Regions from separate parts of the Homo sapiens genome. Here region 2 is linked to region 1. Evidence: fine-mapped QTL for protein levels in blood plasma. A gene starts in region 1. The other region holds a variant in brackets. All regions are shown on one strand. Distances are from middle to middle.

Evidence for each region. PIP is the posterior inclusion probability: the model's chance that the variant is causal. The UK Biobank Pharma Proteomics Project read protein levels with antibody pairs (Olink). The fine-mapping took linkage between variants from a reference panel, not from the people measured, so its PIPs are less certain.
Region 2: its variant is fine-mapped to the plasma level of the MCEMP1 protein (UK Biobank, PIP above 0.99).

The regions. Positions count from the first base shown.
Region 1 is chr19:7,670,767-7,680,400 of GRCh38, forward strand. It overlaps MCEMP1 (mast cell expressed membrane protein 1), which reads left to right and starts at 6,324. Exons shown (of 7, transcript NM_174918.3): 1 at 6,324-6,409; 2 at 6,871-6,960; 3 at 7,338-7,475; 4 at 7,584-7,634; 5 at 7,725-7,838; 6 at 8,158-8,217; 7 at 8,332-9,063. The coding sequence starts at 6,355. The coding sequence ends at 8,348. RefSeq lists an enhancer at 7,291-7,360.
Region 2 is chr19:7,649,447-7,659,080 of GRCh38, forward strand. No RefSeq gene overlaps it. Among named protein-coding and RNA genes, the nearest start is that of RETN, 15 kb to the right of the region's middle. RefSeq lists an enhancer at 8,706-8,825. The variant A/G (reference allele first, on the strand shown) is at 5,107.

The DNA.
Region 1 (9,634 bases):
CCCCCAGTCCTCATAATGAGGCTTCATCGAGGACCTGGGTCAGTCTGGGCAGTGGACGGGACCCTCCAGGGCCCCAAGACTCCAGGAGCCCCAGGTCAGGGTGGAACCCTGAATCATGTCTCAGCCCAGAGCTGGAACCTGTACCCCTCACTTCCTACCTGCAAGGAGGAATCCCCAAGGCACAGGCAAAGTTGGGTTACGGAGAGTCAGGGACGCCTACCTGACGTCACGCATCATCACAAGCTCACGTTTTCACACAGGCAAGTGCAGTTGTGAGTAGTTAGTTACAACCAGATACACGCAGGGTGCTTACCCCTTCCTGGATACTAGATTATGAAAACACAGAGCAGGGGACTTGTCTGCTCCTAGATCCCCCCCAGGGTTTCGTTTCTTCCCTTCCCTTCCCCTCCCCTCCCCTCCCCTCCCCTCCCCTCCCCTCCTCTCCCCTCTTCTCTTTTCTTTCTTTCTTTCTTTTTTTTTTTTTGAGACAGGGTCTCGCTCTGTTGCCCAGGCTGGAGTGCAGTGGTGCAATCTCGGCTCACCGCAACCTCTGCCTCCTGGGTTCAAGCGATTCTCCTGCCTCAGCCTCCCACGTAGCTGGGACTACAGGCGCTCGCCACCATACCTGGCTAATTTTTGTATTTTTAGTAGAGAAGGAGTTTCACCATGTTGGCTAGGTTGGTCTTGAGCTCCTGGCCTCAAGCGATTCACCCGCCTCAGCCTCCCAAAGTGCTGGGATTACATGCATGAGCCACCGCGCCTGGCCTATTTTTTAATTTTTATTTTCGAGACAAGGTCTTACTCTGGCGCCCAGGCTGGAGTGCAGTGGCACAATCTCGGCTCACTGCAACCTCTGCCTCCTGGGTTCAAGTGATATTCCTGCCTTAGCCTCTCAAGTAGCTGAGATTACAGGTGCCCACCACCATGCCCAGCTAATTTGTATTTTTAGTAGAGAGCGGGTTTCACCATGTTGGCCAGGCTAGTCTCAAACTCCTGACCTCAGGTGATCCACCCACCTCGGCCTTCCAAAGTGCTGGGATTACAGGCATGAGCCACTGCACCCAGCGCCCCCAGGGTTTAGAATAGAGCATGGAACACAGTAGACGTTCAGTAAATGTCTGTTGATCAGTAGCCACATGTGCACTTAGATACAGCACCGACGTGCACATACTGCACATGCACACACAGCTATACACAGCCACGTGCACACACAGAGTACACAACCCACCTACCACGGCCACATGGAGACACCACATCCACAGACACACCCATGTGCCCCTAGACACTCTTGGACACAGAAAGGCACCACCCCCCCGGCCAATGCACGGAGAATCGCAGATTTGACTATGGTGGGCAGAGATGATGCAGGACACAAACACACACATGCTCCAGGCAGACTCTTGCATTTCTGACTCTAGTCCCCACTGCACCTGGATAAGTATCTGATACCCTAGTGCAGCGATCCCCAACCTTTTTGGCACCAGAGACTGTTTTCATGGAAGACAGTTGGTGTGTGTATGGGGTAGGGGGGGAGCGGGGATGGTTTCTGGGTGATTCAAGCGCATTACATTTATTATTCACTTTATTTTTATTATTATGACATTGTAATATAGAATAAAATAATTCTACAACTCACCATAATGTGGAATCGGTGGGAGCCCTGAGCTTGTGTTCCTGCAACTAGATGGTCCCAGCTGAGGGTGATGGGAGACAGCGACAGATTACCAGGCATTTGATTCTTATAAGAAGTGAGAAAGCTACATCCCTCAAATGCGCAGTTCACGATGGGATTCTTGCTCCTATGAGAATCTAATGCTGCTGCTGGTCTGACAGGAGGTGGAGCTCAGGTGGTAATGCGAATGATGGGGAGTGGCTGTAAATACAGATGAAGCTTCTCTCGCTCGCCCACCACTCACCTCCTGCTGTGAGGCCCCGTTCCCAATGCCCGGTGGCTGGGGACCCCTGTTCTAGTGGGCAAAAGCCTCAGCATCCCCCGCCTCAGCTCCCTGGGGCACAAATTCAGGTGATTCGGGGTCCAGTTCTACAGGAAGCCTGACCCAGGAGTCTTGCCATCCAGTCCCTGATTTCCCACCACAGACTTCAGAATTCCTAGCACCTAGTCTTGAAAGGGATCCCAGACTCAAATGTCACACCTGGACAACAGATGATAGAGTGAGGTTCTGGTTTGCAGGATGTTTTGGACTCTCCTCCCACTGCCACCCACCCCCTGTGATGGTCCCAGCCCCCTGTCTGATGCTGGTGGCCATGAGCAGAGATTACAACCACTTCTGGTGCCAGGGACCCCACCCAGACTCCAGCCCAGGGATTCCCTTCCCAGACCCTCTCTCCTGACTCCACAGTGGTCATGGGGGTAGGGCAGGACCACTGAGTTAGAAGCATGGCCAGGGCCAGAGAGGGTGAGTCTAGTGCCTTGTGTGTGTCCCTGCCCCTTACTGCTGTGTGTGTGTGTTGGGGGCGGGGATGCTCCATTGTCCCCAGAACTATTTGTCTCCACCCCCATCCAATAGTCCTGTATCTGAAACCTAAGAGGGCTCTCTTCAGGTTCCTCAATTCCAACATAGACATTCTCCTGCCCCAGAGTGCAGACTTGGAGGTCATATCTGCCCAGGTGATGTGGACAGGCAAACCCCCTATTAGAGCCTCAATTTCCTCAATAGCTAATGCCTAGATCCCCTGTGGTAGGCAAGATATCCTCCTCCCTCCTCCCTCCTCCCTCCCTCCTTCCTCCTCCTCATCCTTCTCCTCCTCCTCCTTCTTCTTCTTCCTTTTTGAGATGGAGTCTCACTCTGTTGTCCAGGCTGGAGTGCAGTGGCACGATCTCAGCTCACTGCAACCTCCACCTCCAGGTTCAAGTGATTCTCCTGCTTCAGCCTCCTGAGTAGTTGGGATTGCAGGCGCCCACCACCACTCCTGGCTAATTTTTGTATTTTTAGTAGACACGGGGATTTCGCCATTTTGGCCAGGCTGGTCTCAAATTCCTGACCTTAAGTGATTCACCTGCCTCGGCCTTCCAAAGTGCTGGGATTACAGGCGTGGGCCACAGAGACCAGCCAAGGCAAGATTCTTCTGCTTGCAAGTACAACAGACCCCACTTCAAACTAGCTTGGGCAAAACTAAAAGGAAGTTTCTTGTTTGTGTAACTGACAAGCCCAGGGTTAGAACAACAGGTTCAGGTATGGCTTGGAACCAGGGTCTCAAATGATGTCTCCAGGACCCAGACTTCCTCTCGGGTCTGATTTTCTCAGCACTGCCTTTGCTCTCAAGTAAATTCTTCCCTGTCACAGCTCCCATTACATCCTCCCATTGTGGCAGCCCTAGTGAGGGCTGGAAAAAAAAGAGAATGCTTTTTCCCCCGTGGTTAAACCAATAAAAATCCCAGACCAGCGTTTCATTGGCTGGATCTTGCTCAAATGCCCGCCTCTCTGCCCAATCTTAGACTCTGGTTGGCTGGGTCTGGATCATTTGTCCACTGTAAACCAATCCCTAGCTTATGGTTTGCTGGATCTAGCACACATTTTCTTTCTTAAAAGAAAATTGAGAATGTTACCCTATGAAAGGGACGGGTGCTGGTCAGGCAGCTTTGCAGATGTTTCCCACATGACATGATTGCTTGTGGGCCTCTGGTTTAGCGTGACCTTTTTCTCAAAGGAAGTCCAGAGCCTGGAGCCGCGTCTCAGCCCCACCCAAGCCCGGGAAATGTGCAACGCTGTGGCTCCACCCCCTGTGCCTGTCCATCAAGGCAGAGCCCACATCCAATTGGTCCGTCTGCTCCATTAGAAGGCGGTCCTATAGCTCAGTAACTGACTTCTTTCTAAGACCAAATGGAGCAGCTGGCATGAAGTCATTATCAAATTGATCTTTCTTGGAGACACAGGATTTGGCAATATTTTAGGAAACAGAACTTTATCCTCACCAGATCTCGACGCTCATTTCTCAACATTCAAGTTGTCTGAAATTTAACCACATATTTTTAACCAAAACATCATCACTTTCTGCACATAAGACAGTCTTATACTTGTTTTTTCTTCTTTTCTTCTTCCTTCCTTCCTTCTTTCTTCTTTCTTCTTTTTTCTTTTTTTTTTTTTTTTTTTGACGGAGTTTTGCTCTTGTTGCCCAGGCTGGAGTGCAATGGCGCGATCTCGGCTCACTGCAACCTCCACCTCCCGGGTTCAAGTGATTCTCCTGTCTCAGCCTCCCGAGTGGCTGAGATTACAGGCGCCTGCCACCACGCCCAGTTAATTTTTGCATTTTTAGTAGAGACAGGGTTTTATCATATTGGTCAGGCTGGTGTCTCTAACTCCTGACCTCAGGTGATCCGCCCGCCTCAGACTCCCAAAGTGCTGTGATTACAGGCGTGAGCCACCACACCTGGCCAGAAAAAAATAAAAATAAAAATGTATGCCTGTAATCCCAGCACTTTGGGAGACCAAGGCTGGAGGATCAGTTGAACCCAGGAGATCAAGACCAGCCTGGACGGCATATTGAGACCCTCATCTCTACAAAAAATAAGAAAAATTAGACTGGGCCACGGTGGCTGATGCTTGTAATCCCAGCACTTTGGGAGGCCAAGGCGGGTAGATCACGTGAAGTCAGGAGTTCGAGACCAGCCTGACCAACATGGGGAAACCCCGTCTCTACTAAAAATACAAAATTAGCCGGGGGTGGTGGTGCATGCCTGTAATCCCAGCTACTTGGGAGGCTGAGGCAGGAGAATGACTTGAACCTGGGATGCGGAGGTTGCAGTGAGCTGAGATAGCGTCATTGCACTCCAGCCTGGGTGACAAGCACAAAACTCCATCTCAAAAAAGGAGAAAAATTAGCCAGGTGAAGTCGTGCCCACCTGTAATTTCAGCTACTCGGGAAGCCGAGGACGAAGGATTACTTGAGCCAGGGAGGTCAAAGCTGCAGTGAGCCATGATCACGCTGCTGCACCCCGGCCTGGGCAACAGAGTGAAACCCTGTCTCAAAAAAAAATTATTAAAAAACATTTAAAGAGACAGGGTCTTGCTATGTTGCTCACGCTGGTCTCAAACTCCTGGCCTCAAATGATCCTCCTACCTCAGCCTCCTGGGTAGCTGGGACTACAGAGCGAGCCACCATACCCAGCTACTTTGTGCCTTTTGTAACCCCAGTTTTCAAGATCAGATAAACACAAAGTGAACTAAGACACCTTCTAGACAGAGTGCGGGCATGTGAACGCATGCTTGTGTCTATTTTTCTGAGTGTCACAATGCAAATAGTATGCAAATGAGTTTGTGATGTGTGTCCGTGTGCAGACCTGTGTGTGTACATGTGTGAGAGAGAGTATCTGGGTAGATAAGCAGATGGATGGATGAGAATGAGAAACCTGGAGTTTCCAGGTGCAGAGGAAACTGTTCCTCCAGGGTTCTTTTTTGAGACAGAGTTTCCCTCTTGTCACCCATTCTGGAGTGCAATGGTGTGATCTCCGCTCACTGCAGCCTCCGCCTCCCAGGTTTAAGCGATTCTCCTGCCTCAGCCTCCTGAGTAGCTAGGATTACAGGCGCTCGCCACCACGCCCAGCTAATTTTTGTATTTTTAGTAGAGACGGGGTTTCACCATGTTAGCCAGGCTGGTTTCAAACTCCTGACCTCAGATGATCCACCCACCTCAGCCTCCCAGAGTGCTGGGATTACAGGCGTGAGCCACCGCACCCAGCCTCCTCCAGGGTTGTATAAAAGCAGGGGATTTGGGGAGGGAGGGAAGGATGTGGGTCTGTCCTCAGTCCCAGATGTGGGTGTGGCGTTCCAGTGGTTAGTTCCCGTTGCCTCACATCTGTGCTTTTCCTCCACGGGGACTTGTAGAAGTAGAAGAACTTCTTGGGGGTGGAGCTGAGGGGTGGAGCTGAGGCTGGAGGGAGGAAGGTGTGGGGGGACCCAGGGGTCCTGTCTCCAAGCCTGGTTGCTCTTACGCGAAAAGTTGGGACACTGAGGTGTCACAGCTTCTCTTTTGAAATGGAGAGGAGGTAGGAGGGTGAGGTCCATCCAGGTAGACACAGACACACACAGAGACCACAGCTTCCTGTAACATTTCCGAGTGTCGAATTCCATCTCCCGGTCTAGAGGTTTTTCTTCTTGGTCCTTCCTGAGACCTCTTGGCTCCCAAGAGCCTCTTGATCGGGGCAGGAATGAGGGTGCCCCAGGGTGCGAGAGTCGTGGATCCCTGAAAAGAGGAGGCTGCTCCCCCTCTTTCTTCCCCCCACCTCCAGATTTCCTCATCTGCCCACACCTTCCGGTGGGCGGGGACGTGTATGGACAAATTTGCGGGCTGGGGACCATGGAAGTGGAGGAAATCTACAAGCACCAGGAAGTCAAGATGCAAGCACCAGCCTTCAGGGACAAGAAACAGGGGGTCTCAGCCAAGAATCAAGGTTAGGGAACTCGAGGTGGAAGGGAGGGGTTAAGAAGGAGAGATTGGGGGGCCGGGGGCTTTTGCTCATGTCTGTAATCCTAGCACTTTGGGAGGCTGAGGCGGGAGGATTGCGTGAGCCCTGGAGGTGGAGACTGGCCTGGGCAACATAGGGAGACTCTGTCTGTAAAAAATAAAAATAAAAAAAGAAGGAGAGTTCAGATGGGAGAGGTAAGGGGTCAAAGGTGGGGGCCGGGGGCTCCTTCCCCTCCAAGATGTGTGGATGTGTGTGTGGATGTGTGTGTGGTGTGATCACTCAAACTCTCACACACCCGCTCCACTTAACCAAAAAGCAGATTTTAGCTTCTCACTCCTTATCTTTCACCCCCTACAATTTATTGAGTGCAAAGGGTTGGGTAAAACAAGATCCCGGATCCACTCTCCACACCACAGAGCTCTGAGCAGATCTCCAACCCCTCCCAGGTGCCCATGACCCAGACTATGAGAATATCACCTTGGCCTTCAAAAATCAGGACCATGCAAAGGGTGGTCATTCACGACCCACGAGCCAAGGTGAGCAGACACCCACCTGCTCACATCCCATCACCTTGGGAAGGGGCAGGTGGGCGGGCAACTGCAGGGCCCCCGGGGCTGCGTGGAAGGGAGGAAGCGATGGGGAAGGAAGAGGTGACAGCTGTTGACGTGCTAATGAGGTCTGTTGATGATGACAATGTTGGGGAATGCTGGAGAGGGGGTCTGTGATGGTGACGGTGTTAGATCGCTGAGGGTGGCTGGTGGTGGCAGTGTTGTTGACGATGATGACAAGCTGCATGACCACAGCTGCTGATGGTTTTGAGAGGAGCGAGGTGTCCATGGTGTTAGAGACAGTGAGGATGGTTTGAGTGGTGGTGCTGGCCCCTCAAGGTCACTTTGCTGCCTCTTTGCTCCAGTCCCAGCCCAGTGCAGGCCGCCCTCAGACTCCACCCAGGTCCCCTGCTGGTTGTACAGAGCCATCCTGAGCCTGTACATCCTCCTGGCCCTGGCCTTTGTCCTCTGCATCATCCTGTCAGCCTTCATCATGGTGAAGAGTGAGTACTTCTTGGGAGGAGGGTGCTGGGGGGCCTAGACTTTCTCCCTTGTCCTTCTCTCTCTCTCTCCCTGGGTGCTTCAAGGATTTTCCTGCCCCTCCTGAACAGATGCTGAGATGTCCAAGGAGCTGCTGGGCTTTAAAAGGGAGCTTTGGAATGGTGAGCGGAGGGTCTGAGGGAGACCCGTGGGGTCATGGTGGGGGTCTGGAGAGGGATGGATGCACAGACACCCCTGTTTCATGCCCTCAGTCTCAAACTCCGTACAAGCATGCGAAGAGAGACAGAAGAGAGGCTGGGATTCCGTTCAGCAGAGCATCACCATGGTCAGGAGCAAGATTGATAGATTAGAGACGACATTAGCAGGTGCCTGTGTAGTCTCGCCTTCTATGGGGGTTATTTGTCACCAATGCCCGGAGCTGAGCTGGGGGCAGGGGATTCAGGGGAGGAGAAAGCCGGGGTCCTACCCTCCCAAAGCTCAAGTTGTGGAGGGGCGATGGGTGTTACCATCTGGGTTGCTCTGTGGGTATTGAAAGGCTCCTGGGAACCCCAAATCCATGGGCTCTGCTGTACCCCAGGGTGGGTGTGGGGCAGGGGGGGTGCTTCCAAGGAAGGTGGGGGCTTTGTTTGAGGCTCCACCGCAGCTTGACTTATCTGTTCCCACCCAACCCTCCCCGCCCCCTAGGCATAAAAAACATTGACACAAAGGTACAGAAAATCTTGGAGGTGCTGCAGAAAATGCCACGTAAGTTGGCGCCCCGACAGGAGGTGGAGGAGGGTGGGTGGGGCTTCAGATTTAGCCCCAGCTCCTCTCCCAGGGGCGGGATCTGCCTCACTGTGGGTCTCTCCCCATCCCCAGAGTCCTCACCTCAATAAATGAGAGGACATTGTGGCAGCCAAAGCCACAACTTGGAAGATGGGGCTGCACCTGCCAACGAAGACGGGAAATGACCCCCCCCCCCCAGCCTAGTGTGAACCTGCCCCTCGTCCCACGTATAGAAAAACCTCGAGTCATGGTGAATGAGTGTCTCGGAGTTGCTCGTGTGTGTGTACACCTGCGTGCGTGTGTGTGCGTGTGTGCGCGTGTGTTCGTGTATGTGCGTGTGTGCGTGCGCGTGTGTGTGCATTTTGCAAAGGGTGGACATTTCAGTGTATCTCCCAGAAAGGTGATGAATGAATAGGACTGAGAGTCACAGTGAATGTGGCATGCATGCCTGTGTCATGTGACATATGTGAGTCTCGGCATGTCACGGTGGGTGGCTGTGTCTGAGCACCTCCAGCAGATGTCACTCTGAGTGTGGGTGTTGGTGACATGCATTGCACGGGCCTGTCTCCCTGTTTGTGTAAACATACTAGAGTATACTGCGGCGTGTTTTCTGTCTACCCATGTCATGGTGGGGGAGATTTATCTCCGTACATGTGGGTGTCGCCATGTGTGCCCTGTCACTATCTGTGGCTGGGTGAACGGCTGTGTCATTATGAGTGTGCCGAGTTATGCCACCCTGTGTGCTCAGGGCACATGCACACAGACATTTATCTCTGCACTCACATTTTGTGACTTATGAAGATAAATAAAGTCAAGGGAAAACAGCGTCGCTATGGGACCTGTTACTGGGGCAAGGGGAGGGGTTTTGGGACCTGGGGAGAGGGAGAGTCTGCACGTGACAATGACCCCGGGGCACCAGGGTGGGCGAGACTGAGTGCCCTGCGTGAGTACCTGTGCATCTGTGAATGAGTAACTCATTCCCTGTGTCTTCCCTGTGTCCCAGAGTGGGTGCCCCTGAGCATACAACATCTCCCTGAGTGTACCTGGGACCACGGATATATACAAGCCCTAAGCGTGTACCCACGTGTGTAATTGTGCCCGTGAGTGTATCTATGCCATTGAGCATGTATCCATGAGTGTACATGACCCTAAGGTACTATGTCCACCGCTCATGCATGCACTTGATTTGTTGTTGTTGTTGTTTGTTTTTGTTTTTTTGAGACAGGGTCTCGCTCTATCACCCAGGCTGGAGGGCAGTGGTACGATCATGACTCATTGCAGCCTCGACCTCCTGGGCTCAGGCGATCCTCTTGCCTCCGCCTCCCGAGTAGATGGGATTACAGGTTCACACCACCACACCTGGCTAATTTTTTTTAAAGAAGTGGGAGTCTAGCTA
Region 2 (9,634 bases), 21 kb before region 1:
CTTCTGAAGCTTCTCTCCTTTCCTTGTAGACAGCTGTGTTTTCCCTGTGTGTTCACACAGTCTCCTCCCCCCGCCCCAGTGCATGTCTGTGTCCTAATCTGCTCTTCTTACAAGGAAACTGGTCATGTTGGATTAGGGCCCACGCATATGACCTCATTTTTACTTAATTATTTCTTTAAAGATTCTATCTCCAAGTATAGTCACTTTCTGAGGCAGTTGCGGGGCAGGACTTCAGCATAGACATTTGTGGAGAGGACACAGTTCAGCCCATAGCACTCAAGTGAGGTGTGAATCTCACAGCACCAATAGAACAGGAGAGGCCGGGCGAGGTAGCTTACACCTGTAATCCCAGTGCTTTGGGAGGCCTAGGTGGGAGGATCGCTTGGGCCCAGGAGTTTGAGACCAGCCTGGGCGGCATAACACGATCCTATCTCTACAAAAAAATTTTAAAATTAAATTTTTTTAAAATTTTTTTATGGGCATGGTGTCTTGCACCTGGGGTCCAGTTTACTCAGGAGACTGAGGTGGGAGATCGCTTGAGGCTAGGAGTTTAAGACCAGCCTGGGCAACATAGCAAGACCCCATCTCTACAAAAAATAAGAAAAATTAGTCAGGCACGTGATGGCACACGCCTGTAGTCCCAGCTGCTCAGGACTTTCAGGTGGAAGGATTGCTTGAGCCCGGGAGGTTGAGACTGCAATGAGCTATGATCATGCCACTGCACTCCAGCCTGGGTGGCAAGGTGACACCCTATCTCAAAAAAAAAAAAAAAAAAGAAAAAGGAAAAGAAACCTCTCTGGGGCACAGATATACAGCCAGCCACATGAGTAATCTGAGGCAAAAGGGGCTGTGGGAGCCCATATCACATCTAATCCACCCAGACTGGGGGCAATCAGGGAAGGCTTCCTAGAGGAGGCAGCATTTGCATAGAGAATGAAAATGAAGGGGGCGAAGGGAAGGGAGGGGAGGGCAGAGCAGAAGCCAAGGCCAGAGAATGCAGGAGGCCCCTGAGGAGCTGGAGGGGAGGGTACTGACCTGCAACCCAATCTGAGAACCACGTGGAGGTTCTGGTGAGGCCATGGTGAGGGTTTTGGTCCCTGCTGAGGCCATAGGACATCATAGACAGGGTCTGAGTTGGGACAGGTAGGGACCCATGTCTCATGTTGGCAGTGAAATTCTCACTGCTGGAGTGGGTGCCTGGGGAGGGGGCAGAGGGTGGGGAAGCATCCTCTTCAGAGGTAGAGCCTCTCTTACCGCCTGTGCTCAAGCGATCCTCCCACCTCAGCCTCCTGAGTAGCTGGGACCATGAGTGCACATCACCAAGCCCAGTTAATCTTTTAATTTTTTGTAGAGACTGGGTCTGGCTATGTTGCCCAGGCTGGTCTCCTGGGCTCAAGCGATCTGCCCACCTCGGCCTCCCAAAGTACTGGGATGACAGGCGTGAGCCACCGTGCCCGGCCTCTCTCCTGATTTTGAGGTCACAGATCCTTTTGAGAATTCAGGGAAATCTAAGGACACTCATCCCAGAAAAACTGCACACACAATTTGCAGGTGGGGGCTAAGGAAAATGCAGCCCCCTCTGATTCAGCAGTTCCACAATTAGGATTTATCGGAATCTCCCACCAGGGCAGGGAGATGGATGAGGAGAGTTGTGAAGGGGATGAGGTGTGGGGAAGAAAGTGGGTCGGCTGTGGACCCCTGGGGTCCGCCTGCCCTGGATATGCCTTTGCAGGGCCTCAGCAGGGACGCGTTTTAACTTACGGGAGGTGCAGGGAGTGGGAGGGAGGTGGTTTTAATGTTTAAAACTTAAGCTCAAGGTCGGGCACAGTGGCTCACGCCTGCAATCCCAGCACTTTGGGAGGGCGAGGTGGGAGGATTGCTTGAGGCCAGGAGTTTGAGGCCAGCCTGGGCAACATAGCAAATTCCTAAATATATGTATTTTTGAGACAAGGTCTCACTCTGTTGCCCAGGCTGGAGTGCAGTGGTGCGATCTCGATTCACTGTAACCTCTGCCTCCTGGGTTCAAGCGATTCTCCTGCCTCAGCCTCCCAAAAAGCTGGGATCACAGACGTGCGACACCATGCCCAGCGAATTTTTGTACTTTTAGTAGAGATGGGGTTTTGCCATGTTGGCCAGGCTGGTCTCTAACTCCTGGGCTGAAGACCTCCCACCTCAGCCTCCCAAAATGCAGGAATTAGAGGTGTGAGCCACTGTGCCCAGCCAATCTCTACAATACTCTTTTTATTTTATTTTATATTATATTATATTTATTTATTTATTTATTTTTTGGAGATGGAGTCTCGCTCCGTCGCCCAGGCTGGAGTGCAGTGGCATGATCTCAGCTCACTGCAACCTCCGCCTCCCCGGTTCAACCGATTCTTCTGTCTCAGCCTCCCGAGTAGCTGGGACTACAGGTGCGTGCCACCACGCCCAGCTAATTTTTGTATTTTTAGTAGAGACGGGGTTTCACCATGTTGGCCGGGATGGTCTCGAACTCCTGACGCCGTGATCCACCTGCCTTGGCCTCCCAAAGTGCTGGGATTACAGGAGTGAGCCACCGCGCCCGGCCAATACTCGTTTTAATAAAAATTTTAAAATGTATTCACGCCTAACTGGGTAGTTACTTGATACAATAAATGATCTTTTCTAGATTAAGAAAAAAGAAAAAAAAACATTTAAACTCAATTTCCTGGGAAGCCGCAGTTTTGCGCCGGGAGTGGCTTGTGTAGGCACGCGCTGCGAACGCCAGGGGGCGCTGCGGCGCAATTTCCCGGTTTCTTTGATCTTCCGCGTCTGTAACTGGAGATGAGGTGACCCGAATTAGACACGACGGGGAAGTAGGTCAGGGGTTATTCCGTGGTTCTCAGCGGAGACAAAAGTCTGTTGCTTAAACCGCCTCTGCCTCTGCTCCTTACTTATACCCAGGTGATGCAATGTCTTCACACTAAAGGCAAATATTGAGTCTACAAATATTTATGTGTCCCTGTGGGCGGCGGCAGCTGACAATATCGGGTCCTAACGAGCACGAAGTCAAGCTCCCTCTGCACGCTTTATGCAGATCCTCAAAACCCTCCTGTGAGGATCGCTGGAGCCTAGGAGTTCGAGGCTGCAGTGAGCTATGATTGTGCCTCTGCCCTCCAGCCTGGGTGAGAAAGCGAGAAGTTGTGTTAAAAACAAAAAAAAAGTTGGGGGGCCGGGCGCGGTGGCTCACGTCTGTAATCCCAGCACTTTGGGAGGCCGAGGCGGGCGGATCACGAGGTCAGGAGTTCAAGACCAGTCTAGCCAACATGGTGAAACCCTGTCTCTACTAAAAATACAAAAATTAGCCGGGCGTGGTGGTGGGCGCCTGTAATCCCAGCTACTCGGGAGGCTGAGGCAGGAGAATCGCTTGAAACCGGAAGGCAGAGGTTGCAGTGAGCCATCATGCCACTGCACTCCAGCCTGGGCAACAAGAGCGAAACCCTGTCTCAAAAAAAAAAAAAAAATTATCCTTTGAGATCCCTTCCCCCAAGTCCATTTCCCATCTCATGGTGAACCTGGCTGCTGTTCTTCAAACACACCACACTGTCCCTGCCCCAGAACCTTTGCACCTGCTATTCCCATCATCCGCAATGCTGTGCCTTGCAAGCTATTGTACTCCTTCCTCCTTCCCTTCCCCAGCTGGGAGAGGCCCCTGCTTTACTTCCTTGTGGTATCCCCACTTAGGGTGCTTTCTTTCTGGTTCTCTTCTGGTACCGAGGAATGATCCTCATTCTGGATTTGGCAGGTTGCTTCCTCTCTCCCCATCCCTGCCCCAATGTTTACCCTATAAATGGCTTAGAACCACATGCTCTATTGGAATAAGGGTCAGTTGCAGCCAGAATAATATCATGCTGGTAGGGCCGGGTACTTCCTGGTACATCACATCAGGGGGTCCATAACGTCATGTCACTACGATTGATGGGTGGGTTTGGGGAATGTCCCTGGTCCCCAGTAACTCTCCACATAAAGATGTTAACAGGAGCTGGGCCCAGTGGCTCACGCCTGTAGTTCCCAGCACTTTGGGAGGCCAAGGCAGGAGGATCACTTAGGCCCAGGAGTTTGAGACCAGCCTGGGCAACATAGCAAAACCCTGTCTCTACTAAAAATAAAATAAAGACCGGGCACGGTGGCTCATACCTGTAATCCCAGCACTTTGGGAGGCTGAGATGGGCGGATCACTTGAGGTCAGGAGTTCAAGACCAGCCTGGCCAACATGATGAAACCCCGTCTCTACCAAAAAACCAAAAATTAACCAGGCGTGGTGGTGCACACCTGTTATCCCAGCTACTCAGGAAGCTGAGGTAGGAGAATAACTTGAATCCAGGAGGCGGAGGTTGCAGTGAGCTGAGATCATGCCATTGCACTCCAGCCTGGGTGACAGAGTAAGACTCTGTCTCAAAAAATAAATAAATAAAATACAACAAAATAAAATAATTAGCCAGATGTGGCAGCAATTGCTTGTAGTCCCAGCTACATGGGAGGCTGAGGTGGGAAGATCACTTGAGTCCAAGAGGTTGAGGCTGCACTGAGTTATGATCTCGGCACTGCACTCCAGTTTGGGCGATAGAGTGAGACCCTGTCTCATAAAAAATAAAAATAAAAAAGGAAAGAAAAGAAAAAAAGTCATTAGCAGCCATCAATTTTGTTGTTGTTATTGTTTGTTTGTTTGTTTTTGAGATAGAGTTTCGCTCTTGTTGCCCAGGCTGGAGTGCAGTGATGCAATCTTGGCTCACTGCAATCTCCACCTCCAGGGTTCAATCAATTCTCCTGCCTCAGCCTCCCAAGAAGCTGGGACTACAAGCATGAGCCACCATGCCAGGCTAATTTTTGTATTTTTAGTAGAGACGGGGTCTCACCATGGTGGCCAAGCTGGTCTTGAACTCCTGACCTCAAATGATTCACCTGCCTCATCCTCCTAAAGTGCTGGGATTACAGGCATCAGCCACCGTGCCTGGCCCGCCATCCATTTTTGATTCATTACTCTCTTGAGGATTATGTCCAACTTTATCATTCCTGCTACTGGAATTAGCTGTGGTTCTTCTGAAAAAGGCTTTCTGCTTCCCTCCGGAACTAGCTGGTTTGTAC[A/G]GAAAGTGACAACGTGATACATTGACTTATGTATTATTTGTGGAATGCCTTGAGGCAAGCGGTTACATGAGCTCAGCAGAAGAGCCTGGAATGGGCACAGCCCTGAGGGTCACGTGTGGCTCCCTTGGAAGCATCTAGGGAGCACCCAGGAACGATTGGCTGCCATAGTAATTACTATCTAATTTATTAGATATAGTAAAAATAAATTTATTACTAATTATCACTAACGATTCTGATTACTGGGTGAGAACAATGGTGATCTCATGTATTTATGTGCATTACAGGGTGAGAGTTCTCCTTCCTGTGGCGTGCAGGAGATTCTAGAATAGAAACTCATTGAAAGAGTGAGAGGAAAACATTTGTGATCTTGAACCTGTTCCGCTTAAAAATACATGAGGGAGGCCGAGTGCGGTGGCTCACGCCTGTAATCCCAGCACTTTGGGAGGCCGAGTTGGGTGGATCACCTGAGGTCAGGAATTCGAGACCAGCCTGGCCAACACGGTGAAACCTCGTCACTACTAAAAATACAAAAATTAGCCAGGCATGGTGGCGGGCACCTGTAATCCCAGCTACTCGGGAGGCTGAGGCAGGAGAATCACTTGAACCCAGGGAGTGGAGGTTGCAGTGGGCCGAGATCATGCCACTGCACTCCAGCCTGGGTGGTACAGCAAGACTCTGTCTCAAAATAAGTAAATAGATAAATCGATTAATAAAAAATACATGAGAGGACGGGTGCAGTGGCTCATGCTGGTAATCCCAGCACTCTGGGAGGCCGAGGTGAAAGGATCATCTAAAGCTGGGAGTTTGAGACCAGCCTGGGCAATATAGCAAGACCCCTGCCTCTACAAAAAATGTAGCTGCACCTGGTGGCACACACCCAGCTACTTGGGAGGCTGAGGCAGGAAGATCACTTGAGTCTGGGAGGTGGAGGCTACAGTGAGCTGTGATTGCACCACTGCACTCCAGCCTGGGTGACAGAGCAAGACCTCATCTCCAAAAAAAACACAAATAACAAAAACGTGAGGGTCCAGAGAAATTAAAGCTGCGGGCTGGGCCAGCAGCAGTGGTGGTGGGATGGTGAAGCCAGCGACCCTAGCAGAGAAATCGGGGACAAAGGAATCAGTGCTGGAGACCTGCAGAGGAGGCGTCCTGGACCCAGACAGGAAAAGGAGGTGATGTAACTCAACGAAGCAAGGAAATCTCGTGGAAATGAGTAAGGTGACAAAGAGAGGCCACCCAGGGGGAGACCCAGACATTGAGGGTAGCTTCCCTTTTATTTTCTGTAAAGTTGCTCAAAAACCTTAAAACACAGTTGACCAACAGCTGCTGCCAAGAACATTGTGAAAAGGTTTCTGGGTAAGGAAATGGCCCTGCGAATGGGAAGGTTCCGCTCTGGTGGGATCAGAGATGAGGTGTCCAGGGCTGGGATAGGCAGGCCAGGATAGCAAAGCCCTGGCAGACAGAGGCTCCATTTTGGGTGTCCTTCATTCCCTTCTTTTTTTTTTGAGGCGGAGTCTCGCCCTGTTACCTAGGCTGGAGTGCAGTGGCGCGATCTCGGCTCGCTGCAGCCTCTGCCTCCCGGGTTCAAGTGATTCTCCTGCCTCAGCCTCCCAAGCAGCTGGCATTACAGGCATGTGCCACCACGCCCGGCTAATTTTTGTATTTTTAGCAGAGACAGGCTTTTTCCATGTTGCCTAGGCAAATCTCGAACTCCTAATCAAGCAGTCCACCCGCCCTCAGCCTCCTTCATTCACTTCTGAGATGATTCAGTTTCTGTCTCTGTTGGCAGCTGGGAAAGTTCTGAAAAAAGAATGAAGAGCAGTCCAGGCGTGGTGGCTCGCAACTGTAATCCCAGCACTTTGGGAGGCTGAGGTGGGCAGATCACCTGAGCTTGGGAGTTGGAGACCAGCCTGACCAAAAAGGTGAAACCTCACCTCTACTAAAAATACAAAAATTAGCTGGAAATGGTGGTGGATGTCTGTAATCCCAGCTACTCAGGAGGCTGAGGCAGGAGAATCGCTTGAGCCTGGGAGGCAGAGGTTGCAGTGAGCTGAGATTGTCCCACTGCCCTGCAGCTTGGGTGACAGAGTGAGACTCTGTCTCAAAAAAAAAAAAAAGAAAAAGAAAAAGTAAAGACAATGGCATCAGACAAATTCTGGCTCTGAAATCTAGGCTAGCTGGCCTGGTGACTTTTTTTTTTTTTTTTTCATAGAGATGGGGTCTTGCTATGTTGCCCAGGCCGGGTTTTGAATTTTTGGCCTCAAGCCATCCTCCTGCCTCAGCTTCCCAAAGTGCTGGGAATATAGGTGCCCCACTTTTTTTTTTTTTTTTTGAGACAGAGTCTCATTCTGTCACCCAGGCTGGAGTGCAGTGGCGCAATCTTGGCTCACTGCAAACTCCACCTCCCAGATTCAAGCGATTCTCCCACCTCAGCCTCCCGAGTAGCTGGGATTACAGGTGCCCACCATCACACCCAGCTAAGTTTTGTACTTTTGGTAGAGACAGGGTTTCACCATATTGGCCAGGTTGGCCTCGAACTCCTGACGCCAGATGATCTGCCCGCCTCGGCCTCCCAAAGTGCTAGGATTACAGACATAAGCCACCGTGCCCTGCCCTTTTTTTTTTTTTTTTAAGAGTCTCTGTCTGTCACTTAGGCTGGAGTGCAGTGGTGCAATCATAGCTCACTGCAGCCACAAACTCCCGGGCTGAAGCAATAGATCCTCCCCCTTCGGCCTCCTAAGTAGTGGCTGGGATTACACGGGCATGCCACCACACCCAGCTAATTTTTAAAAAGTTTTTGTAAAGACGGGGGTTTTCCTGTGTTGCCCAGGCTGAACTCAAACTCTTGAGCTCAACGGATCCTCCTGCCTTGGTCTCCCAAGGAGCTGGGATTATAGGCGTGAGCCACTGTGCCTGGCCCTGGTGACCTTTTGACAGTAGCCCCGCCTTCCCCAGCGTGGGTTTTGCCCTCTGTAATGTTGCGTAGGGCTGTTGCGATCACAGAAGGTGGTGGAGTGTGAGTACTTCTGGGGTACTTGCCGGAGGCTGGGGATTTGTGGAGGTGTGTGGCTCAGTTTTATTCCAGGAAACCGTGGCCAGACGGGCCTGTCAGCACCTTCCCTTTCATCTACAGTTCCTCAATTGGGGGGGTGTGAGTTGTTTCATAAGCCCCTCCCCCTCATTTCTTGCAGGAAAGTGGTAATGCAAAGAAACTTTTATTTTATCCACATCTATATTCTTTGTAACCTTTTAAAATAAGATACTTGGCCTGGCGCCTGTAACCCCAGCATTTTGGCAGGCTGAGGCAGGCAGATCACTTGAGTTCAGGAGTTCAAGACCAGCCTGGCCAACAGGGTGAAACCCCACCTCTACTAAAAATACAAAAATAAGCTGGGCACGGTGGCGCACGCCTGTAATCCCAGCACTTTTGGAGGCCAAGGCGGGCAGATCACCTGAGTTCGAGAGTTTGACACCAGCCTGACCAACGTGGAGAAACCCCCGTCTCTAATAAAAATACAAAGTTAGCCGGGCGTGGTGGCGCACGCCTGTGATCCCAGCTACTCGGGAGGCTGAGGCATGAGAATTGCTTGCACTCGGGAGGTGGAGGTTGCAGTGAGCCGAGAGGGTTAGGGTTAGGGTTCAGGAGGAAGGAAAAACCTAGGGTGTTTAGCCCCGGAAATCTCTCTTTTGATGTTCACTGCCTCGAGGTTCTTGCTACCTCTTGCTCCAAGTCACAGCCTGGCCCCAGCAGGTCATGCCAGAGCCCCCAGCCTGTCCTCTGCCAAGCGGTGGTCCTGGCAGCTGCTTAGACTCCCACTCCGAAGCTGGATCATCTGTAGATGGGAAGTGTTTGCATAAATGGGGCCAAGGAGTGCTCTCCAGCTCTTTGGTAAAGAAGCCTGACAGCCGCCAAGGCTTTTACTTTTATTTTCCATCCTTCACCCGGGAGGGGAAGCAAGTATCACTGTGTTCTGATTTGGCAGAGCCACCTGTCATTGCAACTTGTCACCAGGGCAACAAGTCACCATCTTAGTAAGGCAGCCAATGAGAAGCATGGGTTTCCTCTGGTGGTCGGTTTCACAGAACGGCAACAGTTTCTAGGCATCCGAGTGATACCAGAACTCTTTGTTCAAATAAGGCTTCAAGGACAGATGTATAGTGACAGAGAGGAGAACAAGCTGGTAGCAATTATGAATTTTCACAAGGAAAACTAGTTGTGGGGAGCAGAAAAATCCTCTCTGTGGCTTCAGGAACAAAGAGGCCATTTCCCTTGGGTCTTTAGGAAACCCCTTTTTTCCAACTATAATTTATTTTATTATTATTTTTTGAGATGGAGTTTCGCTCTTGTTGCCCAGGTTGGAGCACAATGGTGCGATCTCGGCTCACTGCAACCTCTGCCTCCCGGGTTCAAGCGATTCTCCTGTCTTAGCCTCCCGATTAGCTGGGATTACAGGCGTCTGCCACAATGTCCGGCTGATTTTTGTATTTTTAGTTGAGACAGGGTTTCAGCATGTTGGCCAGGCTGGTC